2 linked regions of the Homo sapiens genome follow. The protein of the gene in region 2 interacts with the protein of the main gene of each other region in a pairwise test. Each region holds a gene or a part of one and is shown on either strand. Other genes may lie near its edges.

Region 1 (3,711 bases), on a different chromosome or scaffold from region 2:
AGGACATTCTATGTGATACACAGACTCAAAGAGGCTCTCATAAAACTTGTCAACTTACCCCACCTGACAGCTTAATCACCCTGACCTTGGAGCTGATGTGGGGCCCGTCTCCACCACCACTGTTTGTCCTGTGCGTGACAGTCCTTTTCACGCCAGGCTTTGTGTCCTGGGGCCGGCCCTGGATGGACGCCACTCGAGGAGTCTGGGGGACAGCTGGCTCCTCCACATCTGCAGGTTTGATCGGGAGCACTTTATGCAGCGGCTGAGTCTGACTTTGAGGAACTGTTCTGGTCTGTCTCAAATGTTTCAGTGCTTTCATCTGTTGTCCTTGATACTGCATGTTGGCACTGGATGGTACAAAATTGGATGTTTTGGGCTGAACGTTTGAAATACTGACATCCTGGTTTTTAACAAGAAGTCTGTTCTTCACATTTTGTCTGACCTGTGCACCTGGAAAGGGCAACAGTGGGTTACCGTTGGTGGGTGATGGTGACAGTGCCTGCTCTTCCTGCTCTGCTGGGGGTGGGGGAGCGTACAGCTGCTGCTGTTGCTGCGCGAGTCTCTCCAGCAGCTCCTTCTTCCTGGCACCAGCCTGCTGCTGCCGCCGTAACTCCTTCTGTTTCAGGATTTCTTCTCTTAGGCGTTTCTGTTCTTCTATCTTTAAGCGATATAACCTTGTTTCCTCATCTTCATCAGGAAACTAAAATGGAAAACATACACGGTTTACTTTGCTATACAGGCAAGGTGCCCATAGTCTATTTCAACAAATTACAAGAACACATTTACCACAAGTCCTTTAATTCAGTATCTGAAAGAAGTCACTCAAAATCTGTTTGAAGACTTTAAGTATAACTCCTTCCTCTGGGGAGGGGGAAAAAAACCACACAGCTAAAGCTAATTTGGAAAATCTTATCAGAATATTAAAAATGAAATAATGTAAATTTCCACTCATTTACAAGTTTGAAACCAATTAAACTATTCATTTAAGATATCAAAATATGTTTCAAACAGGAATGGCAGCAGTAGGGAGGCCTGCTGTCACACAGGTTTTATCTGGCTCTTCTCTGACAAACCAACAAAAGGTGGGGTGTAAATGACCTGAAAGGCTCTGATTAGAACTATTGATTTTTCGTGCAGAATTTTCAGCCTGATCTCAAACTCATTTGTCACAGAATAATTGGTTATAATGAACAGCACAAGTCAATCTCTCTGACCTTGAACTCATGCACTCTCCTCAGAATCAAAATGTTGCCGATTGCAGTATTGGAATATTAATGGTATATAAGGAACGCCTTTAATATTCCAAGTTCCAAACCATTCTTCAAGTCGATACAAAAAAATCTTTGAAAAACTCCAGTAACTTTCAATAAAAAGCATCCAATAGGGAAAATGTATAAAAAGTTAAGCATTTTTAAAGAATTGTAATAATATTCTTTAAAAATCATCCATATCCACAGACTCCGTGTAAAATAATGTAACAGGATTTAATCTATCTAGAATTCAGCTATTTCACCATCTTACTTTCCCTAAATAAACCTTAAGAATTAGGAACTTAAGACAAAAGCACAGCTGAGGAGTCGGCTGGTGCCCTGGAGCTTGAGTGCCCGGTGCCAGCCCTCACTCAGGGATTACTTGTCGTCCTGGAAGCAATTCCGACCACCTCTGTTCTCTAATATCACATCTAGGGCAGATTTCAAACTGCAAAAATGAAGGTGGGTGAGAGGCTGTTTACAAGGGTAGGCATACAGAGCAAGACATGGCGTCCAGGGGGATAGTGGGCACAAGGGACATGGGCATCGGGGAAGCAGACGGCTGGGGACATATTCACAGGACCCAAGGGGCCACTGCCTCAAAACACAGGAATAATTACTAGTCATCGGAATTTCCCATGCAGTCAAGGAAGAGTTAAAGCATGTTCAGAACAGCAGCTGAAATACTTGAAAAGACCTCCAAATAAGCAGATTCACCCTTTATTATATCATCATCAAGAGGGGTGAACATACGAAAATAAGTCACATTTAGCTAAGCAAAACAAATAGAAGATCTTTCTTCTAAAAAGTAAAAAAATATATATAATCCTGGTCCCCTTTATATAGAGAGAGAAAATTAAAAGAAAATAAATCAAGACATTCCATTTATACTACGGTGACCTACAGGTTCCATTTCACTCAAGGCATCTTTTTGAAATAACTCCATGGAAGAATCCTTTAGAAGTTCGCCTAAATCAACTATCATGGAAGGAAGTGATCGCCAGATGTGCCAGCAGGATGCCTGAAAGGCAACTTCCCCTATTAGGTAGCCCTGTTATTATGAATGTGTGACTTCATTTTTCTGAACCAAATCAGTTACACATACTGAGTTAGGAGCTGGCTATATACACTAGAAGTATGATAAAACTTTTACCAAAGACTTCTTTCTAAACTATTCCGATCCAGTTTGTAAATCTACATTATTTTTTCACATATTGATTTTAAAACCAAAAGTCACTCGTGTTCTAATAAGAGTTCATTGTATGTTAATATTTCAACTTTGTACTTCCAATTTGGTAAACAATACATTACAACTGCTACAATAATATATCAGAAGAAAATCTAACTGAAAAAAATGAACTGATTAAAAGGTAAAACCAGTGTTGACTGGTTTTTATGAAACTAAGAAAGCATGACTTGCCTAAATTCTTCTCTAAAGCCATTCTTCATGACATTGCTATTGGACAAGTTAACTCGCTGCACTGCTTCAGAGCACTCCACATGCATTTCACTAAGGCTGACACGCCCTCCAGGTGCCAGCCTTCTGCACAGGCCGCCCTGGCCGACCCTCCTTTACCAGATGAGGAGACTGAGGCTTGTGGGAGAAGACGGCCTCAACTAAAGCCAGGTAAAGACTGAGCTGCATTGATTGTTCACACTCACTACATTCTGTGCCTACTGAAAAATTAGGAACAACAGCAACAACATATATCATCATACTTCAACACAAAGCAAACCCCCAGAAATCTTAAAAGACCAACAAGAAAATTGGTCCTATCTTCTAGAGGTTAATAGTGTAAATCAAGAAAAGTCACAGAAACCTACGGGATTCACCAGGTGTCAGCACATGACACCCCACAGGCTGAGTCCGGTCCACCACCTGGTTTTATAAAGTAAAGTTTTACCGGAACGCAGTCACATCTATTCATGGAAGAACTATATTTAAATTGCCTTTGTGCTAAAATGGCGGAGAAGGGTAATTATGACAGTCTGGACTATAAAGTCTAAAATATTTATAAAATATTTGGGCCCTTTACAGAAAAAGTTTGTTAAGCCCCGGTATATATCAATTCTGTATAACAGAACAGTAACTGTACAAATATATAAACTCTAATCTTGTAAACTAGTGAGAATACAAGTGTTTTTTTAATAAACATGGCTGTTAGGTTAAAAAAAAAAAAAGACCCAGGTGAAAAAAGTGGGAAGATTTTGTGAATAACTTAGTGAGAGTGAACTAAGACATCCAAGTTGATTCTAAGGCTTCTTGTTTGAGACCAACATTTGTTAATAAGAGCAGTGTCCTACCTCTGTTTCTGTTTTTGCCTCTTCTTTAGGTTGAGCCACAGGGCTAGCTGGCTTGACTTTCACTTCCGTCTTTCCCTGTGAGCTTCTGGAACCCGCCACGGCCCGCGAGGGTGGTGACGCGCTGACGATAGGTTTCACTTGTGCTGAGGGCGTGGCA
Region 2 (3,781 bases):
TGTATAGAAATTCTTGCTCTCGAGGAAAAGCAATGCTGGTGGAAAAGCAATTTGATTTTTCTGAGCAGTAATCTTTTTCAGAGTGAGCTTGTAAATCTCACCTAAAATTCAGTCCCCAAGGGAGGTGTGGTTGCTCCTCCAAATGTTTTTAATTTTTTTTTTTTTTGAGACGGAGTCTCGTTCTGTTGCCCAGGCTGGAGTGCAGTGGCACGATCTTAGCTCATTGCAAGCTCCACCTCCCAGGTTCATGCCATTCTTCTGCCTCAGCCTCCCAAGTAACTGGGACTACAGGTGCCTGCCACCACGCCTGGCTAGTTTTTTGTATTTTTAGTAGAGTCAGGGTTTCACCATGTTAGCCAGGATGGTCTTGATCTCCCGACCTCGTGATCTGCCCGCCTTGGCTTCCCCAAATGCTGGGACTACAGGCGTGAGCCACTGCGCCTGGCCCCAAATGTTTTTAATTTATCTATTCACAAGAATATCATAATGGCTTTGACAAATTCATTGCTATTCCATTTCTGTAACATCCCCCACGTCCTGCAAACCTTTGTCTATCAACAAAGAAGTGAGGATTGAACGTATTAGTTTCTAAGCCTGCTATAACAAATTACCACAAACATGGTGACTTAAACCAACAGAAATGTATTCTCTTACAGTTCCGTAGTCCAGAAGTCCAAAATCAAAGTGTTGGCAGGGCCATGCTCCCTCTGAGGGCTTTGGGGGAGAATCCTTTGCCTCTGACCAGAAGGTAGCTCTAACAGTTTCCTTGGCTTGTGGTTGCATAACTATAATCTCTGCCTCCGTCTTAATGTGGTTTTCATCCCTGTGTCCCTGAGTCTCATGTTTCCCTCTGCCTTCCTCTTTGCTTTAGGCCCACCCTGAATCTGGGATGATCTCCTTTTGAGATGTTTAATTATAAAGATCCCTCTCCAAGTAAGATCACATTCACAGGTTCTGAAGAGGAGTAGGACATGGCCATATGTTTTTAGAGGCCACAATTCTACCCACTACGAAGATGGTTTGGCTTGCATTGTTCTTTATGAATGTATAAATGTATGTTAGTGTCCAGTGTTTGCCACATCTTTATGGTTTTAAAAACCATCTGTATAATCTTTTCTAAAATTCAGGTAGCATTTCATATCAAGCTTGCTGGCATCTCTTCCTCAAAGATCGTTAGCGCATTCTGCAGGCTGAGCGTGGTGGCTCACGCCAGTAATCCGAGCACTTTGGGATGCCAAGGCCAGAGGATTGCTTGACTTCAGGAAGTCGAGACTGCAGTGGGCTGTGATTGTGTCACTGCACTCCAGCGGGGGTGACAGAGCGAGACCCTTTCTCCAAAAAAAAAAAAAAAGATTATTAGTGAATCTGTAACCATGTCTACCTTTATTTTAGGATTCTAGATAAGCTTCTTAACTCTTATGTTCCAAATATAAGGCTCTGGGAACTGTTACGGGAGGGTCAAGAAATGGATTCCCTTGGTGTTTGGGGCAACCAGAGCCCCGAAGCTGGCCATCTCCCAGTACCCCAGTGTACCCTACAAATACTGGTATTTTCTGTATGTGTCATGATATGAAAAATGTTGGTGAGCACTGCTTTGCAATATAATTCAGCATTTGAAGACTTCAACTAACATAAAGCATTTAGGCACCCTTTCTTGTTTCTTCAAATGTCTCAGACTTCAGTTTCCTCTTATATTCCCTCATGTTCTTTTTTCTGGAATGGAAAGTTTTCTTTTTAATAGAAAAGACAGAAGAGTTGGGATTGAATGAGTCTGCATTTCCCTGTTGCTTAATAATAGAACATCTGTGGCAGTCTGTCAAATTGTCTTTTGCTTCCCGTTCCAAGCGAGCCCTGATGCATTCTAGTTGGCTCTTCTCAGGAGCCTCAGCTCACTCTACGTTTTGAACTTCCTGACCTTAATGAAAATTTTCATTTGTCATTGCTGCTCTCTGCCCTTTCCTCTTGTTTTTTTTTTAAATGTGTCCTTTGAAAATGTGAGTGTGTCTGGTTAAGGAAACAGAATGTGGACACATTAAAAACACATACACCTGTAAAATGACCTCAGAATGTTGACATTGCGGTGTGGAAATAAATACACATGAATATAATGCTAGTTCTTATGGCATATCCTGGGTATGCCAAGTTAAAGGGTAGTCAGCCAACTGGTGCTAATTGGAATACACCAGCTGTGCTGAGTTTGTGTAACATGGGAAAGTATAGTTGTGCCCTTGTTCTCTAAAAACTTCTAAGCCATTGTAGGACAGTTAAACAGACATGGGTGGCAAAAATATATGATGGGTAATGGTAATCTCCATGACCAATCATAGCATCAGCTGGTCATTTTTAGAGAATGCTTGAGAAAGGAAGAAGGGGATGGTGAGTTGGACAACAATCCAGCTGGCCCTGCCTAGACCCAGGAAATTACCCTATTTTTCCAGAACTTGTGCTATAAATTCTATGATTAAGCTGCATCGTGCATTGAAGCAGGTTTTCATGGGGTCATCTCGGAACTTGGCCACCATTTATATATATTTTTTTATGTTTAGAGACAGGGTGTCACTCTGTCACTCCTGCTGGAATGCAGTGGTGTGATCATAGCTCACTGCAGCCTCCAATTCCTGGGCCCAAGCCATCCTCCTGCCTCAGCCTCCCAAGTAGCTAAGACTATAGGGCACACCACTATGCCTGGCTCATTTTAAAATTTTTTGTAGAGTTGGGGTCTTGTTTTGTTGCCCAGGCTTGGTCTTGAACCACTGATCTCAAGAAGTCCTTTTGCCGCAGCCTCCCAAAGCACTGGGATTACAGGTGTGAGAGCCACTGTGCCCAGCCATCATGTCCCTTTTTTTTTTTTTGAGATGGAGTCTTGCCCTGTCACCAGGCTGGAGTGCAGTGGCCTGATCTCAGCTCACTACAACCTCCGCCTCCCGGGTTCAAGCGATTCTCCTCCCTCAGCCTCCTGAGTAGCTGGGACTACAGGTGCACACAACCATGCCCAGCTAACTTTTGTATTTTTAGTAGAGATGGGGTTTCACCATGTTGGCCAGGATGGTCTCGATCTTGACCTCGTGATCTGCCCTCCTTGGCCTCCCAAAGTGCTAGGATTACAGACGTGAGCCACTGCGTCCGGCCCATGTCCCATTTTTAATGTAGTGACTATACAAGTAATTTGGCTGGAAATAGTATGGGATCACATATTCATTCCTCCATTTATTCCACCAATCACTGGGTGCCTGCTGTCTGCAGACCTTGCAGATGGAGCAGTGAAGAAGATAATAGTGCTTTGCCTTTATGGAGTATACTGTACAATCTACTTTGGAGTTGAGCAATATAATTAGAAAGAATTATAAACAAATAGGGTCCTGGAGTACCATGCAGAACCTGGTCTAGATGTAGTGGTCAGGGAGGTCTCTCAGGAGGTAACATTCAGGCTAATGCTGTATTAAATGGTGCTGGTGAATGGGGCAGGGAAGAGTGAGCCAAGGAGGGAGAAAACAGCCTTGCTAACATTGTGGGGTATGAAGAGGCCTGGTGTGTTCAAGGAGCTGGAAGAAGTCTAGCAAGACTAGGACAGAAGGGAGAATGGTTGGTGCTAATACAAGAGAGACAGGCTGAGACCAGCCCTTGCCAGGTCTCATAGGCAGTAGTGAGCCTTGGGACTTTAGTCTTAAGTACATGAGAAGCCACCAAAGAATTTCATGCAAGGGCATGAGGTAATCTGATTTAAATTTTAAAACGATCACTGTAGCTCCTATGTGGTGAATCGATTATAAGGGAGCAATAG

The links.
Region 1: the proteins of FSAF1 (region 2) and RBM33 interact in a two-hybrid assay, tested with the Homo sapiens proteins (one large-scale study listed by BioGRID).

What each region holds. Positions count from the first base shown.
Region 1 is NC_000007.14:155,741,950-155,745,660, reverse strand, and holds part of RBM33 (RNA-binding protein 33), read right to left. Parts: coding exon 3,555-3,711; intron 701-3,554; coding exon 59-700; intron 1-58. UniProt on the Homo sapiens protein: RNA reader protein, which recognizes and binds specific RNAs, thereby regulating RNA metabolic processes, such as mRNA export, mRNA stability and/or translation.
Region 2 is NC_000001.11:231,234,567-231,238,347, reverse strand, and holds part of FSAF1 (40S small subunit processome assembly factor 1), read left to right. Parts: intron 1-3,781.